Regions from separate parts of the Homo sapiens genome. Here all the other regions are reported to be linked to region 3. Evidence: microRNA targets listed by miRTarBase, many of them from high-throughput screens and not tested one by one. Region 3 holds a microRNA gene; each other region holds the end of a gene's coding sequence.

What was found. Region 3 holds the annotated microRNA hsa-miR-764 (GCAGGUGCUCACUUGUCCUCCU, at 2,626-2,647, opposite strand). A microRNA usually pairs through its seed, bases 2 to 8, with sites in the 3' UTR of a target mRNA and lowers its output. Matches are read on the target gene's strand: a 7mer-m8 pairs with bases 2 to 8, a 7mer-A1 pairs with bases 2 to 7 and ends in A, and an 8mer does both.
Region 1: the mRNA of PBOV1 is a reported target of hsa-miR-764. Seed matches in the 3' UTR shown: 7mer-A1 at 2,563-2,569.
Region 2: miRTarBase lists TOMM70 as a target of hsa-miR-764. Seed matches in the 3' UTR shown: 7mer-m8 at 1,644-1,650.
Region 4: the mRNA of ZNF37A is a reported target of hsa-miR-764. Seed matches in the 3' UTR shown: 7mer-A1 at 1,824-1,830 and 7mer-m8 at 3,723-3,729.

What each region holds. Positions count from the first base shown.
Region 1 is chr6:138,211,655-138,218,780 of GRCh38, reverse strand. PBOV1 (prostate and breast cancer overexpressed 1) reads left to right here and starts at 290. Exons shown (of 1, transcript NM_021635.3): 1 at 290-2,795. The coding sequence starts at 386. The coding sequence ends at 793. All of the region lies in intron 4 of ARFGEF3 (ARFGEF family member 3), which reads right to left.
Region 2 is chr3:100,359,141-100,366,266 of GRCh38, reverse strand. TOMM70 (translocase of outer mitochondrial membrane 70) reads left to right here. Exons shown (of 12, transcript NM_014820.5): 12 at 550-2,836. The coding sequence ends at 703. It overlaps NIT2 (nitrilase family member 2), which reads right to left. Exons shown (of 10, transcript NM_020202.5): 10 at 4,632-7,126. Among named protein-coding and RNA genes, the nearest start is that of NIT2, 28 kb to the right of the region's middle.
Region 3 is chrX:114,634,966-114,642,091 of GRCh38, reverse strand. It overlaps MIR764 (microRNA 764), which reads right to left and starts at 2,657; the gene lies at 2,573-2,657. The region is part of intron 2 of HTR2C (5-hydroxytryptamine receptor 2C); the gene reads right to left.
Region 4 is chr10:38,118,385-38,125,510 of GRCh38, forward strand. ZNF37A (zinc finger protein 37A) reads left to right here. Exons shown (of 8, transcript NM_001324250.3): 8 at 1-6,241. The coding sequence ends at 453. Among named protein-coding and RNA genes, the nearest start is that of ZNF37A, 28 kb to the left of the region's middle.

The DNA.
Region 1 (7,126 bases), not on the chromosome of region 3:
GACTCTCTGCAGAATGAGAGCCTCATCTCAAATTGTCTCTGCCCATACAAACACAGAACTTTTGATAGTTTTATTGTTTATACTTATAGACCTGACCAAGCAAGCTCCTCAAGATAGGGTTGTTAAAGGGCTACAGCCAACCTGATTCTCTACATCTGAAACAATAATTACAGAGCTCTTCTGGAATAATCAAATCATAAAACTCTACCTCGTAGGATGGAACAGAAACATTGGCTCAGCTAAAGAGTGGGTGTTTTCCTTAGATTGTGGAATCATGGCTGATGGTTAGGACCTTAAATATATCGAGGTGGCTAATTGATGTATAATAATTTACAAAATTATTCTTCTATGCTACAGAGCTACAATTCAATTTACAGTAGTAAATATGAGGGCCTTCTTAAGGAACCAGAAATATGAGGATATGCACAATATTATTCACATTTTACAGATCAGAAAATTGAGGCACAGATTAAGTAACTTCCCAAGGCTACCAGGCATTCTAGCTCCAGAAACTGTGCTCTTACCATTCTGCTACAAGGTATTTCGAAAAAAAGAAAAAGTAAAAAGAAGTCAAAAGGCAACAGAGTTCATTGATTATTCCATAGAACAGTCACACCATGCAATTCTCACACCCTTGCAGACACACTTGACCATGAAAGGTTCCTCAATGAAATGTTCCTCATTATCTTCAGAAGCCATATTATTCACATTGACTTTGCAGTTAACTCAGACCCTAGGTCTGGAATGCTGTCTTCTCTACTTATCCAAAACTATACATCCACAGATCATATAAACTCTCAGCCCTGCTGCAAAGCCTTTCCAGAAAAATAAAAATGGTTGAAAAGGCAATTCTGCTACCAATGACTGTTTAAGCCCAGCCAAGTAACTGAACCATTCCAACTTCAATTTACTTATGAAAAGAATTTGATGATGTAGGAGGTTATTTCAATTCTAAAATACAAACCCATGTTGATCTTTCTCAATCTTGAACTCATAGATTATTATCTATTATCTCAATTTAGTTTGTTATTTATCCTAGTGGGCCATTAAAAACTACCACATGTGTTTCTGTCTCTCCATTAGTCAATAACTAAACTAACGAGCAATTAGTAAGCCATGTGCCAGATGCTCCGCTAGGCACCAGAGGGATAAAAACAATACTTATAGTATACCACTAATTTTCGCTTAGTAACTAGTGAAATGTTCAAGTCATGCCTGAGTCAAGAGTTGAGGAGACATTACAATGTGTAATGGAAACCAAGGAAAGTGAAACTTTGGATAAGTGGGGACTAGTGTATTTATATATTTAATTGATTTCTGACTCTATCATTGGCCTCCAAACACAGATTGTGTTTTTCTTTGGTTTTGTTTTCTTCACTATGGGATCTTCTGTGCCCAGCACAGTGCCTGACACATAGAAAACAATCAAATATTTGCTGAATAAATGATTAAAAAATCAGAGAACTTTCCCATTCTGTTTGGATCTATAGAACATCCAGAGTAAGTGATGAGGGCCTCTGCATTTATATGCGCTTAAATTAAGATTATGTGAGAAAAGTTTAAAGACACTTAGTAGAGTGATTTTGAAATATAGTAAACACTTGGAAATGGTGGTGCTTTAAAAAGATATTAATAGATAATATGAAAATCTCCATCTCAAAAATAATGCATAAACTATTTAAAGGAAAATCACATCTCCAGGCTTTCAATGTTTGTTCATTACTTTTTCATATATTTTTACCATCTGCTGAAGGCAGTCATATCAAAGGGTAAAGAAAGATGGGAGGAAAACTCAGTAAGAATTATATTAGTCTGTTTGCAAAGTAGAAAAAGATTCTCATCACTCAACCTTATGAGCAGGAAGAGGGAAGGCTGTTTGAGAACCATTTACTTAGCAGAACCACATATTTTAGACACTTCCCTGCATTAACTGCACAAACAATATGTTTGCAAACTTGTTAGATCAACCTCCAACAACGACACATTCAGGAGTTAAATATTTTTCATCAAACATTGGATTTTTCCTTAACGCTAGAGATTGCTACAAATCTTCTGAAGGGTCTCAATGGCTTCAGGCTAAGAAGAGATTTCTCCCTGTTATAAGCAGCAAGACAAATTAGCCATTTCACTCTCAAACTTCACTAATGATCACATTCTTTCCAAAAGGAACTCTAGAAGACCAAATGCCCCGAGTTAAGAACATCAAAACTAACCATCTGAAGAAACTTCCCAAGTGTAAGACTCTGCCATTAAAACATTACCGAGAGGGGACTCAAACAGTCTTTCTTCCTTTGTCGTGTTTCTTGCTCCCAGACCAAGGCACTGACGACAGTACTGATACATAATTTAAAAGCACACTCCCTTCCACTTTGTAATACCAGAACTCTAATTGGACACCCTGAAGCTTAGGACTACCAGCCATACAAATAGTAAACTCTGTCCACGATTCACTCATCTGTGTATTTTCTATAGATGTTTACTAGGCGTTTGTTATATAAAAATACCCCGGCCAGGCACGGTGGCTCACGCCTGTAATCCCAGCACTTTGGGAGGTGGGTGGATCACCTGAGGTCGGGAGTTCGAGACCAGCCTGACCAGCATGGTGGAACCCCCATCTCTACTAAAAACACAAAAAATTAGCCGGGCGTGGTGGCACATGCCTGTAATCCCAGCTACTCAGGAGGCTGAGGCGGAGAATTGCTTGAACCCGGAAGGTGGAGGTTGCGGTGAGCTGAGATTGCACTATTGCACTCCAGCCTGGGCAACAGGAGTAAAACTCCCCCCCACCCAAAAAAAAAAACAACAACAACAAAAAACCAAAAAACCAAAAAACCAATGGTAAATTACACTCTTTCCCTTTCCCCAACACTCTCTCTCTCTCTCTCTCTCTTTCACACACACACACACACACACACACACACACACACACACACACACACCAGACCGATTAGCTAACTTAGTGGAAAAGACACTTAGATTCCTTCTTCATATGTGAATTTAGCTCACAGGACTAGTGAGGGAATATCATTATCACGGGAAGACACAGAAACCACACAGGACTCTGAGCCACTCCTAGTTTTACCCCTCCTTAGCCTGTGACTTGGCTTTTCTGCTCCATCATCTACACAAGAAGAATAGCAGTGACTAGCACCCACAAGCCTCTCAGGATAGACTTGGCAGGCAAGGTAACCCACCACTTAAGAGCACAGGTTTAACTCCAGGCTGAATACTGCCCTGGTCATTTCACTAGCTGTGTGACCTTAGTATCAATATGTCTGGTGCATAAAAAATGTTAAATGATAAGCCCCTGTCATTTCTCCTTTAAAAATTGCAAAGCACTCTACGAATATTCACTTCTATTATCTAAAAATGCACATAAAAAAGACACCCAGTAATAGAATATTCATCAAATGCTCTCTCAGTGTCCAGCATCATCTCCTTCCTTATCGCCAAAGCCAGCCTGCCCTCCCCAGATAGGATGCCCACATCTCCCACATGCTTACAGAGGCGAACAGCCAGCCATAATTCCATTCGGCAGCCTTTGAAGACTCAGCCAGCTGTATCAGTTAATAACCTCACTAAAGGTTATCCATCAGAAAGAAGGGAAACAAGTCCTAACTACTCTCGTCAGAGAAGTCATTAGATCCGTACATGGCTCCTATACAATCTGCCTGGCATTTATGGAAATAGCACACACCATAGGAAAATGTTGCCAAAGCAGACAAGTATTTAACCTAAATATTCAATAGTCTACTAATCCATTTCCAAGGTAATCTATCTTCAGAGCCTCTTTCTGATTCTGTACAGTTCTGACCATTTATTGTTTGCTCAAGCTGTAAAACTTTTCTTTGGGTTCCATAGCCATTTCAATAAATCAAACTTGCCTTTTCTCCCCTTCCTGTTAAATAGTAAAACCATGTAGAATAGTTCCTAGACTAAGTGATTTAACCTCATTCCTATTTGTCAGAAGCAGGCTTCACTGATTTTTTTTAACCCTCTGATTGAAAGTCTTCTTTCTAAATGAGAATACTATCCTTGGAATATTGGATTTCATTATTGGCCCGTTTCTGTTTAATCTTGGAGAAATCTCTACAAAAAGGAAACTATATTATTTTCTTTCCAGAAATTTAATACAATTGTTCCATACACTTTAGAGTGTGACATGGTTCAATCTTCCATGTTTATAAGCACTAACAGATACCAATATGTGAATAAAACGCATGATCTAACTTCTAAAAAATAACACCTAGGATCCGTTATAACAACGTGCTATGCTGTGGTCGGACAGACAAATAAAAACTGCATGGTGTGGCCTTATCCCTCCTGAATAGCATATCCAGACCAACATTTGAAGATGTCCACCATATCTTGTTTTAAAAGGTTTTCTGTGCCTACAAAATACTTATATAAAATGACTGGAAGATTTTTATAGGAAATTTCTTAAATAATTTATCATCAGAATGAGTCATGTAGAAGTGCCAAGACTAAATTAACATACCCTTCAGATGTAATGGAAATCCAGTCTTTTCTCTGGGGACTCATCTAATTCTCTCTTCTATAATTTTTGGGAGAATACAGTAAAAGCATTTAATACAGTAATGGTATTAGCAAAACAAGGACTTATTTAAGAGGCTTTACCTGGATCATTACAAGTATTACCGAATTATAAGATAAAGGGTGTTGGCTTCTGGAGATTATTAAAAAGTTGATATAGAAATTCCTCATTCAGAGAGAAGAGGGATAAAACTTATTATTCTAAGCCAGAAAGTCTACACTGTGAACCAATCTCTATACCAAAACAAGTATTTTCAATCTCAGAAATAGCAAATGATTATGGAGCCCTCACTTGTGACCTATCAAAGTCAGGTTACCATCAAGTTTTATTTGATGTTAATAACAACATTACCCAAAGTATAGTTATCTTGTCATTAATTTTCTAGCAGCTTGGCCAAAATGTTTATCAAAAAGTATACTTCAAAAAATTAACTTCAGGCTAGGTTTGTTGTGAACTGAAATATTTTTCCCCAATCCTAATATTTAAATAGTTAAAAATAATGGTATGTTTCCTATCATCTCCCCATCACCCCTCCCTTCTAAGCACCCCAGTCTCCAGCAATCATTATCTTACTCTCTACTTCCGTGAGATCAACTTTTTTCGATTCCACATGTGAGTGAAATCATGGTATTTGTCTTTCTGTGCCTGGTTTATTTTATTTAACATAATATCTTTTGGGTTCATCCACAGTTATAGTTAAGTTGGAGGAATAAATTTTAGGAGCTCTACTGTATAGCAAGATGACTATATTTAGTGACAATATTTTTTTTTTTGAGACAGGGTCTTACTCTGCTGGCTACAGAGCAGTGGTACGATCTCGGCTCACGGCAACATCTGCCTCCTAGGTTCAAGCAATTTTCCAGCCTCAGCAACCCAAGCAGCTGGCACTACAGGCTCACACCACCAATGCCCTGCTAAATTTTTTTTTTTTTTTTTTTGAGATGGAGTCTCGCTCTGTCGCCCAGGCTGGAGTGCAGTGGCACGATCTCAGCTCACTATAAGCTCTGCCTCCCGGATTCATGCCATTCTCCTGCCTCAGCCTCCTGAGTAGCTGGGACCACAGGCACCCGCCACCATGCCCGGCTAATTTTTTGTATTTTTAGTAGAGAAGGGGTTTCACCATGTTAGCCAGGATGGTCTCAATCTCCTGACCTCGTGAGCCCCCCACCTCGACCTCCCAAAGTGCTGGGATTACAGGCGTGCGGTATTTTTTTAATTATACTTTAAGTTCTAGGGTACACGTACACAATTGAAGGTTTCTTACATAGGTATACATGTGCCATGTTGGTTTGCTGCACCCATCAACTCATCATTTACATTAGTTATTTCTCCTAATGCTATCCCTCCCCACAACAGGCCCTGGTGTGTGATGTTCCCCGCCTTGTGTCCAAGTGTTCTCATTGTTCAATTCCCACCTATAAGTGAGAACATGTGGTGTTTGGTTTTCTGTCCTTGTGATAGTTTGCTGAGAATGATGGTTTTCAGCTTCATCCATGTCCCTGCAAAGGACATGAACTCATCCTTTTTTATGGCTGCATAGTATTCCATAGTGTATATGTGCCATATTTTCTTAATCCAGTCTATCATTGATGGACATATGGGTTGGTTCCAAGTCTTTGCTATTGTGAATAGTGCCGCAATAAACATATGTGTGCATGTGTCTTTATAGTAGCATGATTTATAATCCTTTGGGTATATATCCAGTAATGGGATAATGGGATAGCTGGGTCAAATGGTATTTCTGGTTCTAGGTCCTTGAGGAATTGCCACACTGTCTTCCACAATGGTTGAACTAATTTACACTCCCACCAACAGTGTAAAAGCGTTCCTATTTCTCTACATTAACTTTTTTTATTTTTTTGTAGAGATGTGGTTTCGCCATGTTGCCCAGGCTGGTCTCAAACTTCTGGGCTCAAGCCATCCCCCTGCCTTGGCCTCCCAAATTGCGGGGATTACAGGCATGAGTCAAATGCCCAGCTGACAATATATTCTTGAAAAATGTAAACAGTGGCTATTATGTGCTGTCACCACAAAAGTGATAACTATGTGACATAATGCATTTGTTAATTAGCTAGATTTAAGCATTCCACAATGTATACAGACTTCAAAATCATGTTGTACATGATAAAGCATACTATGTTATCTGTCAATTAAAAAAATAATAGCATGTAACAAAGGCCCTTATCTTTTTAAGCATTTTGGAAATCTCATTGTAAAGACTGACAGATTCATTGTTTTTCTTTTTTCTGACAGTGTCTGACTTTCCTCCCAGACATTAACTAAAAGTATCAAGGTTTATAATGGTGTCATTGGAGAGTCCATTAAGAGGCTTTCCACGATTTCTGGTGGAGTTAACCTGTGTCAACTCCTATCTTCGGCAAGGCTAGCAGAAGGCACTGCTGGGCGGGATGGAATCAGAAAGCAAGTACAAGTTTTCAAAATAGGTGCGACTGTTGACATAACCATTAAACGTTCTGCTTGTGCATAGCTCCTAGAAGAATGGGTACTTCCTCATTTTAATTTTTAATACAAATTTCTGTATTCCACAAAAACTATTCCTGGGAGAATTTC
Region 2 (7,126 bases), not on the chromosome of region 3:
GAGGAACTCACATAGACTGCCTGAAGAGTAGAGATGCATGGGGTTGGGGATGTGCTGGTAAGAGATGAAACAGAAAGAGGTGGGCCCACATCAGTCTGTGAAGGTAAGGCCCTTGCATGTCATTAGTGTCCCGGTATTATGTCACTGCTTTCTAAAGGAGTCTCATGTTAACAGTAGAAACATGTAAAATTTAGGAACCAGACGGAATTGTGATTTTAAATAAGCCAATCAATTTCCCTAGTCTGACTGTTCTTATCAGTAAACACAGAATACAAGGGATATAATGTAAGCACATAGTATTTGTAATAGTAGTTGACATTCATTGAGTGCTTTCAATGTGGTAGGTACTCTTGTTTATTTTAAAAGAAGCATTTTACTAGAATCATAGTAGAAACTTAGTGGTCAGACTTCATGTAGCATCACTTACAACCTTCATTGAATATTGTGAAGAAACTTAGTGGTCAGACTTCATGTACCATCACTTACAACCTTCATTGAATATTGTGAAGTGCTTGTTGAATCTGAGACTTAAAAATTTTGTTCTTTTAGAGGAAACATGGAGAAAGCCATTGACATGTTCAACAAAGCTATTAACCTGGCCAAATCGGAAATGGAGATGGCCCATCTGTATTCACTTTGCGATGCCGCCCATGCCCAGACAGAAGTTGCAAAGAAATACGGATTAAAACCACCAACATTATAAAACAGGGGGAAAGCAGACTGACCCTCTTTTTAAAAGTTTACCCCCTCTTCAACTGAACCCTAAAGACACTGTCATGAACTGTGTTGAATGGTGGAAATCAGTATTTCTGTTTGTGGTGTTGTTATTTGTTACATCTGTTTCATGTCTAGGTGTTGTGGGTGTGGCTGTTGAAGGAAGTTTGCAGTCTTGCAGCTTTTATTCCCTGTGCAACAAAAGATTAGAACATGTTAAAGGGATTTTTAAATAAAGTTGCAAAGAGTACAAATGATAATTGGCCATGCAAATAAAAACTGATTTGTTGATTTTTTTTTTAAGGGGGGTTGGCAGTTGATTATGTTCTGGATGATTCCGTCTATATATGTGTGAATAATGTAAGTATTTTACAGCATGTTGATTTTTAAATTAACGTAGTAAATGCTGTAAAATAGATTTATATTCAGTTAACCGCTTTCAGTTGATTTTTTGAAAGAAACAAAGGTTAAATGGGGGATTAAAGTAAAATTGAGAGACCCTTTAAACCATTGTCAGCATGCACAATGCCTCTGATTCTGCAGTTTTAGAAACTTGGTGGCACTTATTAATCCTCTTGGCCCCTTTCCACTCTAATGGATAGTGTACATTCTTCTTAAAGTCCACAACAGCAGATTTTCTTGCAGTAAATTATGCAGATGCAAAATATTCTAATTGATATATGTGTTGGAAGACTGAGTATTGATGGGGGAGTGGACCAGACAAAGAGGTAAGATGAAACAGTAGTGTGTTTATAATTGTCTGTGACTATTTTCTATAATAATTAGTACTATTTAATGGTGAGCTTTTAAAAATGTAGGATAGAGGGTACAGTGGCACTGTATATACTATTTATAGTCTCAGCTACTAGGGAGGCTGAGGCAAGAGGCTTGAGACCAGGAGCTCGAGGCTGTAATGTGCCATGATGATTGCACCTGCGAATAGCCACTGCACTCCAGCCTGGGCAATATAGCAAGACCCCATCCTTTAAAAAATTTTAGAACTTTTTTAAAATCAAAGTGCAGATTGCTTGTATGTAAAACCCAAATAAAGGTAGAGTAAGTGTGATATATGGGAGTATTAAAATAGCTTAAAATTTCTCGTGAAGGACATGTGGCTAAAGGGTCAAAAAGGATGTAAGACTTGGAGCCAGAGCATAGTATTTCCTGAAATAACAAGTTTAGTGCTTTAACTATGGCTACATGTGCTTAAGGAATTTTGAGCCACTTATTTTTGAAGATGCTGAGGACATGTAGAGTGCTTTTTGTAGTGAGCTAACCTTGATCTCTAAGGACTAACTACCCAGGTCCAGGTCTTCACTAGGGGTACTGACAGTGTTTAAGCTTTACTCCACCTCCTTACTTAGAAATCACTTTACGATTTATTTCCATTTTCCACTTTTATAGACCATCCTTTTGCTTATATGCTAGATTTTTCTGGTGAGGGAAGGGTTGTGTTCTTCAGGGGTCTTTTGTTTTGAAATACTCAGGATGGGGAGAGGTTTATTTAAGAACGAATTATAATTATGGTTTACACTGTTGGGAGTAAAGGAGCATTTTTACACCCCTTAAGGGTGCTTAATTCTGTTGAAACCAAAAAGATTTGTCTACAAATGCTATCTTTTTTAGAAACTATTAGAAATGACTCCCTTTCAAAGTCAATCTTTGGAAAATATTGAGGAGGTCACTAATTAGTTGGTGCAGTTAATATAATTCAAGATGATTTGGATGATGGGAAGTTTGAGACCGCTGCATTTTGTTTTTAAATTATGCACCTTCTGATAACCCCCAAATACAGAAATGTTCTACATCTCTGAATGACCTCTGACTTTAAAAAAGTTTTTATTTGCATGGCTGTATTTACATTAACACTGACATTTTCTTCTACTCTTCTCCCTTCTTTCATCTTGGGGTTGGGTAGAGAAACACAAAGGAAACTGAAGCATGTGCCATTCTATACTGTCATTCCAAATTCTCATGGACTATTGCCTGTTGTGAAAATGTTTGAAACTGCACTGAAAGCTGCATCTGTCTGTATCTTTCTTTTGTAAATGACCTCACATGTAAATTCACCAAATAAATATTACATTCAAGCTCTTCTATCTATTCTTTAAATAGAAAGATAGGTAGTTTAGGCTGGGCATGGTGGCTCACACCTGTAATCCCAGCACTTTAGCAGGCCGAGGCGGGCAGATCACGAGGTCAGGAGATCGAGACCATCCTGGCTAACACGGTGAAATCCGTCTCTACTAAAAATACAAAAAAGTAGCCGGGTGTGGTGGTGGGCGCCTGTGGTCCCAGCTACTTGGGAGGCTGAGGCAGAAGAATCATTTGAACCCGGGAGGCGGAGGTTGCAGTGAACCTGCTGAGATCACGCCACTGCACTCCAGCCTGGGCAACAGAGCAAGACTCCGTCTCAAAAAAAAAAAAAAGGTAGTTTATTCATTTATTATGCTATTGCGTAAATTCACAGTGAATCTCTTGTGAACTCAAAATAACTTTGAAAATAGGAACATACAGGAAATGTTAGCATATGAAGCAAAGTAAGTTTGTTGGTATGAATGGTGGAGTTTCTTGAGAGCATCCACCCCTCCTACTGTGAAACAAGGCTCCACGGAGAGCTGGTAGAGCCAACTTATTTCATTCTTTGCCTCTACCTTACCCATACATGCACAGCAGCCTGGAAGCTTGCCAATCAGACATGGACCCTGTGGATAAGTTTATTTTGAATCTGGTTTCACCAGTGAGATTGATCATAGTTCTCAACCACGTGGAGTCTCTCAGAAAGCATACCTGAAATAATCATCCTCGAAAATTGTGGTATAAGTAGAGAATACATCCCAAAACAATAAAAAGCAACTTTGGCTGTAAAACAGTTCAGACAGAACTTTCTGCCCTCTGGGAACTCAAATTGTAGTTTAAATAGTAGTTTGTACCTGTAGAAGTCAACTAATTGTTATAAGACTATAACAGGAGGACAATATAGCCAAACCAGGAAACTTAGGAGTATAGAATAACAATTACCCAAGACTGTCCTGTATGGAATTTGTATTTATAAGGAAATAACTTAGGAGTTGTTGTGGGGATACGGGTTATAATTAGTCCTATTCCCATCCTCTGCTAAATTGATTTGTGAACAAAGTGACAAAATTTTAATTTACTTGCAAGCTTTACCACACTGATAGGATGAGTAATGATTCCCCAAAAGACAGCCACATCCTTATCCCTGCAACCTGTGAATGTTACTTTAGTTGGCAAAAAATGGGCTTTGCAGATGTAGTGAAGGGTCTTGAGAAGGGGAGATTATCCTAGATGATCTGGTGACCTTAAAATGCAGTCACAAATGTCTATGTAAGAGGAAGGTTTTAGACAGAAGAGGAGATGGCAGTGTTGCCACAGAGGCAGAGACTGGAGGTGATGTGGCCACAAGCCAAAGAATGTTGGCAACTACCAGAAACTGGAAAAGGCAAGAAACGGATCCTGCCCTAGAGCAGAGTGCCAACACCTTCATTTTGGCCCCATGAATTTGGACTCCAGAAGTAAAAGAGAATAACTTTGTTTTTTTTCAGCCACTAAATTTGTGATGATAGTTTATTACATCAGCCATAGTAACAAATATTCCTTTGGCTATTGTGTACAAGCAGATAAATGGTTTAAAGGAATGCCTTTGAGTATGCTAAAGTAGAATGACTTCATATACACACAAATTTTGGCCAAAGATGGTTTAGGCAGTGAATGTACACCCATGCCACAGACTGGAGTTTTCATCAACAAGTGGGGGTATTTGTGATTTAAAATATGAATGATTGCACTATAACTATCAGACCAAAAAGCTGCCCTTCAGGTATAAAGTAAAAATTGAGATCCCTCTGCCAATATTCTACAAGAGACATCAGAAAGAAGGCACTGTTTTCAGACTCTTAGCATGAAAATAACTAGTCTGGTTTACTTCAAGGTGATAGTGCACAAATCATATTAGGAGTTGACAGCTATAGATCCTTCTCAAAGGTCTTCATGCTGGAGGGCCTGCTGATCACTGGGATAGAAGTAGCTGTGGTACCTGGCCAAGGGGAGGAAGCTGAACATGGTGTATGCTTGGGGTCAAGATGATTGCTGCCTTTCAGAGCTCAGGATACATGGCTCAAATTTCTCCATTTCTTTTGTTGGTGCTTAAAGATAACCTGTGCAAGTGTTGTCCTGGAAGGCTATGAAACAGCTTACCTAGAGCAAATACAGGAAGACCATGACTAACATTGGCTCTTGGGCATTGTTTTAGAGGGCGAAAGGTTTAAAGCAAGAATGCAGCATGGTAGGATTCTCTGCAGAGATGATCCATGGCCTAAATTATGAACTGCTATATTAAATAACTTTTACCTGATTTTATTTCTCAATATTGCTCTGTGTCAAGAGCTGTAAAAGGTCTAAGATGTTACCCTTCTTGAAAACTAGTTTTCTGAATGCTGGCAGAAGACATGAGACTCCTGGGTCAGACAACAGACTTAATTATTTAGAACATAGCAAGCAACATGAGTTTGAGCCACAGATCCCATGGGAGTGACACAGGGCAAGCTAGGTGGATACTGCACATGCAGTGGGTTTGCGTCACAGCCCAAATCTAATGAGGTCACAAGCAAACTGGCCTGACTTTCGCATTAGAGGGAAACACTATTTTGACTGTATCAGATAGTAAACAAACCTGTCCTATGATCCAGAGGAAGATAGTCTCTACCTTCCAAAGCTGTCATTATATGAACATTCTCGATTGGATAGTTTGGAACAAAACACCAATGCCTCTACTCACAAAATGTATGGAGAACTGACTCCCCATCTCTATGTGTTCTTTTATGCATCTCAAGCTTAGTTTTTCAGCAGTGTAGAGCTTTACAGTGTCTGCCTTAGACAACAGCATGATGCAGGGAGAAATTACTGGCCTGAGCATCAGGTGACCTTAGCTCTAAATCAATACTGCATTTTTTTTTTGATACAGTTTAACTCTGTTGCCCAGGAGTACAGTGGTGTGATCTTGGCTCACTGTAACCTCCTCCTGCCTTACCCTCCCGAGTAGCTGGGATCACAGGCATGTGCCACCACACCCGGCTAATTTTTGTATTTTTAGTAGAGATGGGGTTTTGCCATGTTGGCCAGGCTGGTCTTGAACTCCTGACCTTAAGTGATCTGCCCATCTTGGCCTCCCAAAGTGCTGGGATTACAGGCGTGAGCCACCATACCCGGCCTCTGAATTAACACTGCTTTCACTGCTTTCTAATGGAGCTAAGATCTTAAGTAAATGAATATTCAGCTCTACAGCATATGAAGTTACATCACGTCCCAGGCTCTTCCCAGATCAGACTCCCTTAAGGTAAGGAAATCATTCCAGAATTATTTGGCCAGAACACTTGGTGAGAGAGCAAGTGCAACCTGTAGGAATAAATTCATTCCAACTCAACATTTACTAAGCACTCATGATGGTGAGGGTTAGCCATAAAAAGATGAACATAGAGGAGCTCAAAAACTGAGTTTTGGTGGGCTGGATAGTAAATGAACCTGTCATATGCTTCAGAGGAAGGTAGTCTCTAAAACAGAAGTACAATGTAGTGCCATGGAAACAAGAGTAATAAATTGTGCTAAGCATTAAGGAATAAACAGGATTTAGGTAAGGAGCTTCCAGAATGTGGGGAAACAACCACAACAAATCTAAATAAAGGCACAGCATGAGTGTGAGCTGAAAATGAGGCATTCAAGGTAGAGTCCAGCAAAGTGAAGTGGTTGTTTTTAAACGAGTGGGGAAAAGCCAACAGGAGAGCTATGTGAATGAGAATTATCGGCATATATTGAAGACCATGCATGTAGCTGAGATTCCTCAGGACAAAATAAAATGTAAAGGAGCTAAAATAAAACTATTAATATAAGGGCCTTTAACATCTAAGGGACAATGTTAAGTGGTGAGAGAGGCAGTATGAGCAAGGTCACACCAATGGTGTTGAGAGAGGCCACATGGACAGGTCTACAAATCGGTCTTTAGTAATCTGCCAGAAGAGTGTCACTGGACAGATGAGGGCAGAATCTGCCTGCCGGGGTCTGAAAAGCAATTGAAAGAAACTAAGAAATTGGGTGAAAAAAAATCAGGAAGAGTACTTTACAGGATGGCGTGCTCTTTGTTCTGAGGGAGAAACTTTGAGAATGAATCTACAGACAAAAGACTTAAAGCCTAGTTAGCACAACGGGATATACTTGGAGGATTCAATATGCTTCAGGAAGAGCTAGGATGACAACATTTGGAATTACTGGACCCTGCCCACCATGTTCTGTTCTTGCAGATTCTTGTTCATTTGATTATGAATCAGCTGTGAAGTAAATCATTGAACAAGAAGCACTGTCTTTGTATGTATGTGTTTTAGTTATTTGTACATCAGGG
Region 3 (7,126 bases):
GCCATAAAAAGGAACAAGATCATGTTCTTTGCAGAGGCATGGATGGAGCTGGAAGCCATTATCTTCAGCAAAGTAACACGGGAACAGAAAATGAAACACCACATGTTCTCGCTTGTAAGTGGGAGCTGAACAGTGAGAAAACGTGGACACAGGGAGGGGAACAACACACACTGGGGCTTTTTGCCGGGGAGTGGGGGTAAGGGGAGGGAGAGCATCAAGATGAAATGCTAATGCGTGCTGGGCTTAATACCTAGGTGATGGGGTGATAGGTGCAGCAAAACACCATGGCACACGTGTACCTATGTAACAAACCTGCACATCCTGCACGTGTACCCTGGAACTTAAAATAAAATAAAATGGCATAACATCTTTTCTCGATGATATTTTTCATTATTATCTGTTGGGAAATGTAGTCATACTTCTCTGCTCTTGAGAGCAATTTGAATTTTAATGAGGAAAAAAGTAAAATGTTGAAAGCAAGTGTTGAAAGAAAATCAACTTATCCCTTGTTGATCTTATATGGATGACCACTTGAACCTAGCCAAGTCTGGAAAGACATAGATTTTTTTTTTACTTTGAAAACTAATCAAATCATAAAAGAAAACCCTCACTATGAGAGCTAGTCAGAAATCCATGTTCAGTATTTCACAGAACTGTTTCTCCACTTTTAAATGAGAATATACTAATCAATGTCACCATATCAGAAGAGCTTCTAACAGAGTACAGGGGTAAATGATTTCATGTTCTAAAATATAAGGACTATGCAAAAGCAGAAAACAGTTTTAAGAGAAAATATATGCATCTATTCGTGAATTTTATATGTCAACAGAATCCAGTGGCATCTGCTAAAGCAGAAAATCTACTACGAATAAACATTTTATTCAAGTTTAAGAAACAAGGAGAAGCAGGAGGATGGCTTGAGACAGGGAGTTCGAGGTTATAGTGAGCTGCGATTGTGCTACTACACTTCAGCCTGGTGTAGACACTGATGAAATACACAGATGAAAGAAAGAAAAGAAAAGAAAAGAAAAGAAAAAAAGAAAGAAAGAAAGAAAGAAAGGAAGAAAGAAAGAAAGGAGAAGGAAAGAGAGAAAGAAAGAAGGAAAGAAAGAAAAAAGAAAGAAAAAGGGAGGGAGGGAAAGAAAGAAAGAAGGAGGGAGGGGGAGGGAAAGAATGAAGGAAGGAAGGACAGGAAGGAAGGAAGGAAAAGAAAGAAAGAAAGAAAGAGAACGAAACAAGGAGAAACAGCGCAATAAAATAGATGTTGTATCACAAATCCATAAGATAGAAAGGTCCTACTTTTGAAATAAGGTCAAGAAATCTCTATTCCCCAGACTGTAAGCTACTTGAATGCACAGAATCTGCTTTTGTCTTCATTACACTTAGCATAGTGCCCTGTATTTAGTAAGTCTTCAAAAGATGTTTGTGCCATTGCAAAAATGAATGTCAATAATTTTAAAAATATGCCCAATTTGTTACCAAAAGAGCCAACCATTAAACATTTACTGTCAAGCTTCATTGTGGTATGTCATAGCTTGAAAACACTCTGTAACACACACCTTTTGTGTACTATGAGATTTGAGTCTTATAAGATCAAAATGTGGATAAATCTCTACCTGCAGTGTGGCAAATGATAAGATGTGATTGGCAAAGTCTTTAATGTTCAACTTCCCAATGGCCCAGCCGTGTACTTTATTCTAACTAGCATTCCGTGTCATATAAGAAGCCTCCCTTATTTCTAATCATTAATCACTCTTAAAGATATATGTGTTTCATTGTTTTCATTTAAAGTGAATGTAAAATACATTTAAGTAGAGATGTAGAGACTGACAATATCCAATTCTACTTTTTATGGTTCGAGGATTCGTTATCATCAGTCAATTGAAGAAAATACTACTTCCAGTATTAGACTGCTAAAATGATTATCATTAAAGATAAATAGATTATGAATGGAAAATACCTTTCATATATTAAGTATTATATAAATATGTGTCGAACAAAAAATGTATGAAAATTTATATTTCAATGATGATTATATTTACTTTGTAATTACTATTATTTCACTATTATAGTATAGCACAATTTCTTCAAATGTCAATTTTGAAAGTTATAAAGTTCTATAAAGCAATCTTACTTCCTGGCTTAACCTTAACCTGTAATATACTTCAAACTCAAGGACAGAAAGATTGTAAAATACAGTAATAATATATTAATCTTCTTACATCTATTCATACTTTTACAAAAATTTTCCAGGCAGCATTACACAAGGTTAAATACAAAGTTAAAAATCAAGAATCTCAGTCCCTTTACCGCTGTTTATTTTTGCCAATGGAGTATATATTTTATCACTGCAACATTATAATCTGTGAACAACACATGGCTTAAACATTATGTTGTGTTGTTTAGAAGAAATGGCCTGAGAAAAGTAGCTTGCATTTCAAAATCTTTAAATTTCAAAACATTACCACTGTGTTCTACCTTGAGGAGTTTAAAATTTCACAGTCCCACTGATCTGAGAGTCCTCAATGCATTGATTACAACCAGCGGGTCCATCTTCTATCCCAACGAAATTAATCATGGTAACAGTTGCCACTATGGCCTCCTCCCTGCATTTTCCAAGCATGGAGGAGGACAAGTGAGCACCTGCCTCCTAGATTTTAGATTGAAAATATCACCCGAACACACCAGGATTCTTTATACTATGGCAGAGTATAACCTTCTGAAAAAGGCCAAGAGTCTCCTAATGAGCACATCCATACATTGATCATGATGTTTTCCTTTAAAAACCAAGTTCCTCCAAGAATTTGTAAATGGAATTTAGCAATATTTACAATTTACTCATCAATAAATGGCATTTGAAATATTTATTTCACATTGTTTTGTCACATAGTTTAAAAATTTGATCAAAATATTTATAGAACTACTTTTTGTAATAGGAGAAGCCCTTTTTCTTTTAATAATAAAAATAATGTGCCAAGTAAAATATTCATTTATGAAACTGCTCAAGCAAAAGTAAAACCAGAAATATTCGAGATCATTAAGGTTATCCATTCTTCTTGTAGAATATTACTGAAACCTACAAAAGTATTACAAGACACATGCACATGTATGTTTATTGCGGCATTATTCACAATAACAGACTTGGAACCAATCCAAATGTCCAACAATGATAGACTGGATTAAGAAAATGTGGCACATATACACCATGGAATACTATGCAGCCATAAAAAATGATGAGTTCATGTCCTTTGTAGGGACATGGATGAAATTGGAAATCATCATTCTCAGTAAACTATCACAAGAACAAAAAACCAAACACTGCATGTTCTCACTCATAGGTGGGAATTGAACAATGAGAACACATGGACACAGGAAGGGGAATATCACACTCTGGGGACTGTGGTGGGGTGGGGGGAGGGGGGAGGGATAGCATTGGGAGATATACCTAATGCTAGATGACGAGCTAGTGGGTGCAGTGCACCAGCATGTCACATGTATACATATGTAACTAACCTGCACAATGTGCACATGTACCCTAAAACTTAAAGTATAATAATAAAAGAAAAAAATAATAAATAAATAAATAAATAAACGTATTACATAATGGTCAAAAACATATTACAAATTATCACTTTAAGAAGGTTTAAAATTGTACAAGGATTCCATTTACAACATATTTGATCTATATGCTTGCTAACCTAAAGATCTTGGTTATATAACATCTCATACCTCTGCATTTCAAAGATGGACAGTGACAGACATTGTTAAATTCCTGTTTGAAGGTATTAAAAATGACAGACTTTGTTTCTAAATTATGAATTTCCACATTATATTGAACTCTCGGGCTATTTTGTTGCTCGCTCTCAATTTGTGTTTACTACATTGTTTGGGGCATGAGTAGGTTTTCACTAGCTCATCTGAGAGGAAACTCCCTGTTTCTGAAATTCTTTAAGTAGGTTTGTTTGGAAAAATCAGCGAAGCATTCTGTTTAACCTGAGTCATTTCTTTCTACATTAAGCAAAGTTGCCTAGTAGTTAGGCAAAGAGCCCAGTCAGTTACCCTGAACCACAATGGATGCAGATCTATTTTCTTATTATTTCTGTCCCTGAAAAGTTTCATAGCTCCTCAGGGAAAAAAGACATACCCACCATCTTGTAGGTCTCAATTAAGCTTCCTTTCTTTTAGGTTTACACTCACTCTCCCTTAGCGAATTTTGCTTTTTTTTCAATTGCAAAAAACGAAGCCTTCCCATTGCCTGTTTAAAACCCAGTTTGCCTTGCTCAATGTCATGGCTTTTCAGGTTTTCTAAGACTGGTTACTCACTCTGCACGTCAGTGTGAGTTTGCATTTTAATTTTCCTTCCTGCACCTGATCCTTTACAATGACTCTGTAAGGTGTCAATAATCTCTGAAAGTTCTGGGATGAGGCACAGAATTTGGATCATGCTCTTATTTTGCCACAGTGGTAATTAAACACTAACACATACCGACACACATACACGATGAGTAGAGGTTTACGTTGTGTTTGCTTCTAGACCCTGAAATAATTGAGCTCATTTTCAAAATAAATAATCTACTTTCAAATTTGGTCTTTATTTTACACATACACTTAGTCAGAGATGTCTGCAGCTTAATATTTCAGCACATTGTCAAGCAATTCCATATGCTTTTTTCTTTTCCTCTTCCTACTTCTCCTTGTTTAGTCAGAAGTTTTCAAAGTTTTGAGTGCTTTATAGATTGAGGGTGTAGAATATTCTAATATGACTGGCAGAATAAAACAAAGACTGATTTATATTTCTCATGCAGTATATTTGAAAAGACAGATTCCCAACCATTTGCTTACAACTCTATTTCCAGCTCCTATTGGTTAGTTTTCAGTTGTTCATATCTCTGATTTAACACTTTTAAAAGTGCCTCTGTATATTTACAGGCTTAAACCTACAAGATTATGTATTTCTGAAAAAAAAATACACTTAAAAAATGTCAACAGATCTATGTGGAAAGCTAGTAGAAATTTCTTAACACTTAAAATTCACTTATTTTTTTAAAAAATTAGTAAACGGTACTGACTATGAATATTTTCCTGAAAGGACTTCAGTTTCCCTGCCAATCCCTAACCACACCAAAAGTGAGAGGAAACCCCTGGTAACAACGTTTACAACGTGTTCTGTGTGTAAAAGTGCAATCTGGAGAAAATAAATACCCTCACGATTATTTGCTTTCCTTGTAGCACTCATTTATGATCAAACATTTATTATAACTCCTATTTTTTCCTACTTTTAGTTTTCATTCAACTTGTCTTGATAAAGTCTTGAGTTCTCTCCATTTAATTCCCTACTGCTAGCTTCATGACCATCAATATCAATGTGAAAATCATACATTAGTCAGAGGTAGACTCCACCTGGCTTTAACTATATCCTGTAGAGGCACACACAATATCTGTCTCTGACTTCTGACAAGTGACAAAGATAAAAGAATGAGCTATCAACTTAAACATGATCTGCATTTGATCTTGTATTTTGCATATACTATATATTAAGAAGGCTCCAGAGTTAATTATGGATAAATATACAGCTACATTTATCATGCCACAATTTTCAAGTACAGAATGAATATTTGAGAAGTAAAAATAATTTTCTCTTGCTCATCAGATTCCTTTTAGGCTAGATCTATCCTCAACTTATCCAGTTAGTGGAAGGGAGCATCAGTGTGTATTATCAAAAGTGATGTATAATCCATACTGATGTTTTAGGGTTACTTTTCCAACTCCCTTCAAAATAGGAAAACCTGCACTGGGAAGTGGGCCTGTAGCCTTGAATCAGCTGGATTCACAGAAGACAACTCAGCTTCTTTGAGTTGCTAGAGTTCCTTGCTGTTCAGTACCATAACTCCACTCCAGGGAGCATGACCTTTCCTGTTAGGTGATTAGCACTGGGAATAAGAGCAAGATTCTTTAGATCGGGGAGGTAGGGCAAATGGGAAACTGGTTTCATTTGCAAGCAGGGACAAAAAAAAAAAAAAAAACCATTGCACAGCATTCATGCTTCCCAGCTGAGTTGGCTGCAGCCTCAGTTACCTGTTAACATAACAGCTATATTCACAGTCTGAAAATACACAAAGCCAGCTTTTCCTGGCAGTCACTTATCACTCTAGGGTTGCATTACCATCACAGGGAATGAAAACATGGTTCTAATCCAATTAGGAAACAAAGGGTACTTGCAAGAAAAAAGTTTCAATTCAACTTAATGCAACAAATATTTGTTGGTTTGGGAACATTTACCTGCAAGAAATATTCTTCTTTGACATAGAAGCACGTGATTCTAAACTGGCTACAACAATATCATTGGAGGTATTGGTGACAAAAGTGATTACCATAAAAATTAAAGCAGGAAAGGAACTTGAAAAATCATTTACATAGTCCTTAGTGGAGTGTCTTGCACAAAGTAATCTCATCATAAAAAAACTGATGAATGGATGAATCCAGTTCAATCCCTCATTTTACAAATCAAGAAACTAAAGTCAAAATGAAGAAGTAATTTTCTCAATGATACAAAGTTAGCCAGTGGAAGAGCAGGACAAGAGACCAGAATTTCTGAGTCCTTACCTATTATTCTTATTAACATACTCTTCTTTATATTCAGTCATTTCCACTGTTGATTGATCCGCTGTAGACCATATTCGTCTTCATCCCCATAACTATGTGACTTCATGCCCACAATGTCTTTTAGTACAGCAACTCCATTAAACTAGCCTTAACCATTCTAATCCATATCCTTATATCTCTTCTCTGAATTTTTAGTGTTTACTGGCTATACCAAAAATTGAAGCTTTTAATAAAAAACACATTTGGCAAGAATTTTATGTATATATCTTGCATCATTAATAAGTTTTGTATGCTTCTTCAGGTAAGGGACATTTGTTTATAGTTCTTTATATATATCAGCATGTAACACGCAGGTTTACCTTGGTGCATCAGAATGAGTATATAATTTAGCATCCAGATTGGACACTTTTGAGAGTTAAAAATTATATTTAATACATGTGCAATAAGCATAAACTGTGACTGTCCTAGGAAAAGTAGAATATATAGTCACCCTAATAGTTGTTGATTTGTTCAACATTTGTTA
Region 4 (7,126 bases), not on the chromosome of region 3:
GAATGTAATGAATGTGGGAAGTCATTCTCTGAGAAGTCAACCCTTACTAAACATCTAAGAACTCACACAGGTGAGAAACCTTATGAATGTATTCAGTGTGGAAAATTTTTCTGCTACTACTCCGGTTTCACAGAACATCTGAGAAGACACACAGGGGAGAAACCTTTTGGATGTAATGAATGTGGGAAAACCTTCCGTCAGAAGTCAGCCCTAATTGTTCACCAGAGAACTCATATAAGACAGAAACCCTATGGATGTAATCAATGTGGAAAATCATTCTGTGTGAAGTCAAAACTCATTGCACATCATAGAACACACACAGGGGAGAAACCCTATGAATGTAATGTTTGTGGAAAATCATTCTATGTTAAGTCAAAACTAACTGTACATCAGAGAATACACTTGGGGAGAAACCCTATAAATGTAGTAAACGAGGGAAATTACTCTGGGTGAAGTCAGAACTTTGTAGAACACAGAACATAAAGGGTGAGAGAAATCTGTTAATATAATGATAATGAGAACACCTTTGCCCTGAAGTCAGTTCTCACAGTATAGAAGAGAACTTAAAGAGGGAAAAAACAATATGAAGATAGGGAATGCAGGAAAACATTATTCTGGAATTTGGACCATACACTATGTTACAAAACTAAAAGTGGAAAAAACTTATTGGTGAATGAATATAGGAAACATTTTGCCCAATGCCACTCTTCATTAAACATCAGAGAATTCACACGGGGTGAAACCTGGGTCAGCATCCCTAGGTTGAGAAGGGATGCATTTTTCTGCTACTACTACAGTTTCACAGAATACCTGAGAAGACACACTTGGAGAAACCTTTTGGGTGTAATGAATGTGGGAAAACCTTTCATCAGAAGTCAGCTCTAATTGTTCACCACAGAACTCATATAAGACAGAAACCCTATGGGTGTAATGAATGTGGAAAATCATTCTGTGTGAAGTCAAGAGGCCAGAGAAAATGCACAAACTGTAGGAAACTATAGGAAAGCATTTACTATGAGGTTATATTTTATGGAGTATATGTAATAAGAAGTAGCTTCTCAGTGAACATCAGATAGTAGAGAAAGTATTTTTAACTGTATCCAATGTGTGGATGTTTTAAGTTAAAATCTAAATTTAATATAGAACAGAGGTGTTGAGTTGCAGGATATCTAGCAATTTAAGAAAATGTGGAAAAAATATTTTTATTGAGAAATAGCATTTTACTTTGTTAATATCTAGTTTAGTTCATTGTCAAGACTGCTATTTTCTAAGAGACTTCTAAAGACGCCACTCAAGCCAATGGCTATAAGTAGTTCAAAGGTTTATTGCTTAGCCATATGAAAAATAAGGGAAGATTTTTTAGCAAGGGGACCCACAAACAAGAGTGCTCTTGTATGTCCAGAAGAAAGAGAAAGACCATCAATCAGGGGCCATAGTACAGGAGCCCACCAGCAGGATTTTTGAATAATCCTAGGGCAGACTAAATTCAGACGACCCATCTCAGAATGGTGGATCAAAGCAGCAAGTCAATTTGCCTTGTATGCAACTTATGAGGATTAGTAGAAGAGAGTGGGTCCAGATTTCTGGTGGTTTCTGCCCTGCAGATGTCTAACACATAAGCCAGGACATTCTGCTGTGAGTGACTTATTGTACCCAACTCTATTTCTCTCCATACTGAAACATGTCTTTCATAGGTGATACAACTTTTTAAAATGTATGTGTAGATATAACTTAAATATGGAGCTTTCAAAAAGCACAAATAGGCTGGACATGGTGGCTCATGCCTGTAATCCCAGTACTTTGGGAGGCTGAGGTGGGCAAATCACCTGAGGTCAGGAGTTCCAGACCAGCCTGGCCAACATGATGAAACCCTGTCTCTACTAAAAATACAAAAATTAGCCGGGCATGGTGGTGCACATCGGTAGTCCTGGCTACTAGAGAGGTTGAGGTGGGAGGATCACTTGAACCTGGGAGGTGGGGGTTTCAGTGAGCTGAGATCATGCCACTGCACTCCAGCCTGAGTGACAGAGAGAGATTCAAAAAACAAAAAAAAAGCAAAAATATACTTTGCTATTGGGTAAGGTATAGTAGTTGGCAGCAGAATGGACCCATTGAGGATAACTATAAAATTACAGAAAATATTTAAATGCAACTTATTGCTATAGAAGCAAAGAGGACTAAAGGGCAAAATTCTAGAGAGTGGTAAATCTCAGAAAGCACAAGCATAAAATGCAGCTCTGGGGGCCCTTTCCACTTCTGGCTATAGGGAAGAACCTGAATACTGAACTTGATTCAGGCAGAGGACCATAACCTGGGGGTCAGGGGAAGGCATGGGGGGGACCAGAAACCAGAAGAACAATCAAGACTGCAATGAAAAAAATGGATACATTAGGAGCTTCAAACACATATAATTTCTCAAGAAATTTCCAGATGTCTCATGCTGCATAGGGCAGGAGCCTGAAAAGCTAATTTGAGAAGATAATAAGTAGGATTTTTGTTTTGTTTTGCATTTTGCAGTACAAAGGAGAAATGATTAGAACTTAGGAAGTGCCAGTGGGTTGGTGAACATGCCATCAGTAAAAGCCCTGGAAACAAGGTCATACTAGAGATTGGTTGTGCCTTGTCACAACTGCAAACAATACCTGAGTGGAGTATTCAAAAACTTGCTTAGAAAGAAAACTCTAGGAACAGATGGCTTCACTGAAGTTATTCCAAATATTTAAGAAATAATACCAGGCTTTTATAAACTTTTCTAGAAGAAAAAAGATGGAACTTTTCCAATTCAGTTTTTGAGGCCAGTACAACCTTGATAACAAAACCTAAAAAAAAAACAACAAAAAAACCCATAAAGCTATAGACCAAAGTCTCATAGATTTAGATGCAAAATCCTAAAATTGAAAAAAACATCTAGCCATATCCATAAACTATATCATCACCAAGAGATGTTTATTAGGGCAATCAAAAGATTTATTATTTTAAAAAAATCAGTGTGGACTTCCATTCCTCTTTCTTTTGATTCCCCCCTTTGACTTTTCATGTATCTCTCCTGCCTTCCTTCCCCAGAGTGGAGGAGTTAGACTTGCCTCGTGGGATGAGAGGAGTTGTGGCTTTGTGTCTGCTGGCACCAAGAGGGCTGAGGGTGAGGTGTGGAAGGGACAGGGGGAGGAGATGGGCAGCATTGTTGAGAGATTGGTAACACTGAGCAAATAAATATGTTGAGAATGATGACAGCAAGATTTCTCCATTAGAGAAGGTATTTATAAAAATAGGAATGAGGAGAGCTAGAAAACCTGGAGTGTGGCATTAGAATAGAACTCATATCTTTTAAATATATAGGAACAAATAAATAAATTGTTGTGTGTGCACATATGCATATATTTTGTGTTCATTCTACTGAGAGGACCTAAACACAATGACACCTCAGTAACAGTAAGCACACCAACTGCCAAGTTATTAGTTCCTAAATACTATCCACAAAAAAGGGGAACAGGGATGATTCCTAGTCAGAGATTGGGAGAAATACAAGATGAGCCTGAATCATCTCATGTACCTGACAGTAAGAAAATACTCTGGCTGGTCTCAGTGGCTCATGTCTGTAATTCTAGCATGTTAGAAGGTCAAGGTGGGTGGGTTGCTTGAGCTCAGGAGTTTGAGACCAGCCTGGGCAACATGGCACAATTGTCTCTACAAAAAATACAAAAATTAGCCAGGCATGGTGGCATGCACCTGTAGTCCGAGGTACTCAGGAGGCAGAGACGTGGGAGGATCGCTTGAGCCTGGGAGATTGAGGCTGCACTGAGCTGTGATCGTGCCACTGTACTCTAGCCTGGAAGACAGAGTGAGACCCCATCTCAGGAAAAAAGAAAAAAAAAAAGATGTCATTCAGCAGGTTAATGGATAAACTGTGGAACATCCAGAAAACTTTAACATTCTTCAAAGAAATAGAAAACACAATCCTAAAATTTATATGGGAACCACAAAAGACTTAGAATAGTCAGCTATCCTGAGCAAAAGGAATCAAACTGGAGGAATCATATTACCTGACTTCCAATTATTCAACAGAGCTACAGTAACCAAAACAGCATGATACTGGCATAACAACAGACACATAGGAACAGTATAGACAACCCAGAAACAAATTCATACATCTATGGTGACCACTTTTGACAAAGGAATGAAGAACATACACTGGGGAAAAGATAATGTCTTTAATAAATGGTGCTGGGAAAACTGGATATCCATATGCAGAAGAATGAAACTAGACCCCCATCTCTTAGCATATACAAAAATCAAAATTAATTAAAAAGTTAAATCTAAGACCTCAAACTATGAAACAGCTAAAAGAAAACATCGGGGAATCTCTCCAGGACATTGGAGTGGGCAAAGATTTCTTGTGTAATACCTGACAAACAGGCAACCAAAGCAAAAGTGGACAAATGGGATCACATCAAGTTAAAAATCTTCTGCATTGCAAAGGAAATAACAAAGTGAAGAGACAACCCATAGAATGTGAGATAATATTTGCAAACTATCCATCTGTATTAGGCCATTTTTGAAGTACTACAAAGAAATACTTGAGACTGAGTAATTTATAAAGAAGAGGTTTAATTGGCTCACGGTTTTGCAGGCTGTACAGGAAGCATGGTGCTAACATCTGATCAGCTTGTAGGGAGGCATCAGGAAGTTTCCAACCATGGTGGAAGGCAAAAGGGGAATAAGTATCTCACATGGCAGGTGCAGGGCAAAGAGAGGGGGGAAGGGAAGTGCCACACAACCAGATCTTGTGAGTACTCAGATTTTGTGAGGGGTGCTTGAGGTCATGGATACCCATTTACCCTGATGTGTTTATACACATTTCATACCTGTATTAAAATATCTCATGTACCCCATAAACATATACACCTACTTTGTACCCACAAAAATTTAAAAATAAAGTTAATTTCAATGTTTAAAGACTTGTTATTAAAATAATAGCAGTTTCTATAAATTTAATATTTCAATAAAACTCCCAGTATTTATTGTTAACACTGGAAAAAGTTTTCCAAAACGTATATGGCAGAAATATGGGCCTTGATGTGAGGACAGCATCAATTAATGAGGGATCCTCTCCCTTGATCAAAACACCTTCCACCAAGACCCACCTTTAACGCTGAGCATTACCTCTCAAAGTGAGATTTGGGCAGGGACTAATATCCAAACTGTATCAACATCTGACAAGGTGTTCACAACCAGAATATATAAGGAGCTATAACAATTCTATAGAAAAAAAAATCTGATTTAAAACTGGGCAAAAATCTGAATAGACGTTTCTCAAAAGAAGACATACAAATGGCAAACAGGCATATGAAAAGGTACTCAACATCATTGATCCATTAGAGAAATGCAAATCAAAACTACAATAAGATATCATCTCACCCCAGTTAAAATGTCTTCTCTCCAAAAGACAGATAATAACAAATGCTGAAGAGGATGTGGAGAAAAGGGAAACCTCGTGCACTGTGGAAATGTTATTAGTACAACCACTATGGACAACAATTTGGAGGTACCTCAAAAACTAAAAATAGAGCTATCATACAATCCCACAATTCCACTGGTAGTTATATACCCCAAAGACAGGAAATCAGTATATTGAAGATATATCTGCACCGTGTTTACTGTAGCACTACTCACAATAGCCAAGATTTGGAAGCAACCTAAGTGTCTAACAGCAGATGAATGGATAAATAAAATATGGTACATAAACACAATGGAGTACTATTCAGCCATAAAAAAGAATGAGATCCTGTCATTTGCAACATTGTAGATGGAACTAGAGATCATTAAGTGAAATAAGCCAGGCACAGCAAGACAGACATCATGTTCTGACGTATTTGTTGGAGCTAAAGATGAAAACAACTGAACTTATAGAGGGTAGAAGGATGTTTACCAGAGGCGGGAAAGGCAGTGAGGGCATGGTGAGGGGGAAGTGGGGAATGTTAACGGGCACAAAATGTAGAATGACTAAGACCTAGTATTTGATAGCACAAGGTTACTACAGTCAATAATAATTGTGCATTTTAAAGGTATAATTGAATTGTAACACAAAGGATAAATGCTTGAGGTTATGGATACCCCATTTACCCTGATGTGATTATTAGACATTGCATGCCTATATCAAAATATATCATGTACCCCATAGATATATACACCTAGTATGTACCCACAAAAATTAAAAATAAAGTAAAATTTCAATGATTAGGAAGACCATTGTTAATATCAGTTTCCTTTAAATGTTTCTATAAATTTAATACAATTTCAATAAAGCTCCCAATATTTATTCTTAGTACTGGAAAAAGTTTTCCAAAATGTGTATGGCAGAAATAGGGCCAAAATAGGCAAGAAAACTATTTTCGAGATGTCAGTTTTCCTCAAATTGTTCTATTAATTAAACGCCACCTGAATTAAAATTTGACAAGTGGATTATAAATTTATGTGGACATTCAAAACAATTATGGATACATGAGTCCAGAATCACAGCCATAAACCATGAGGTGCTTGGGAGATTTTCAGAAAATATGCCAATGAAATCCAAGGGGAAAGACATGTCTTCAAAAAGTGGTGTTACCTTTGACTCCCCAAAGCATATATAAAGCCTCTACTCATCATAGATCTAAATATAAGAGCTCAAACTTAAAACTTGTAGAAGAAAACATGAGAAAATTTTTGTAGGTTTGAGTTAGATGATGATTTCTATATAGGACAATAAAAATATGGAACATACAAAAATAAATTTAATGCACTTAATTATAATACAAATGATTTACTCACTTTAAACTTTGATAAATTAGATTTTGTTAAATTCAAAAGCTTGTGTTCTTCAAAGCACACAGTTAAGGAAATGGAAAGGCGAGTAATGGACTAAAAAAAATACCTGTAAAACAGCTTTGGTTAAGAATAGAAGAAAAATCCTAATAAGAAAATTGGTGAAAGAATGGTGTGGAAAGTTCACTACAGAAAAAATATGAATGGCAAATAATCCTGATTTGGGGGAGAGTGTTCAATACCAATGCTAATTTTTTAAATGTCCTGTGTTTAATTTTTTGGAGTTTGTGATTTGCAACATGCCCCTACTGCATGGAGGGAGAGG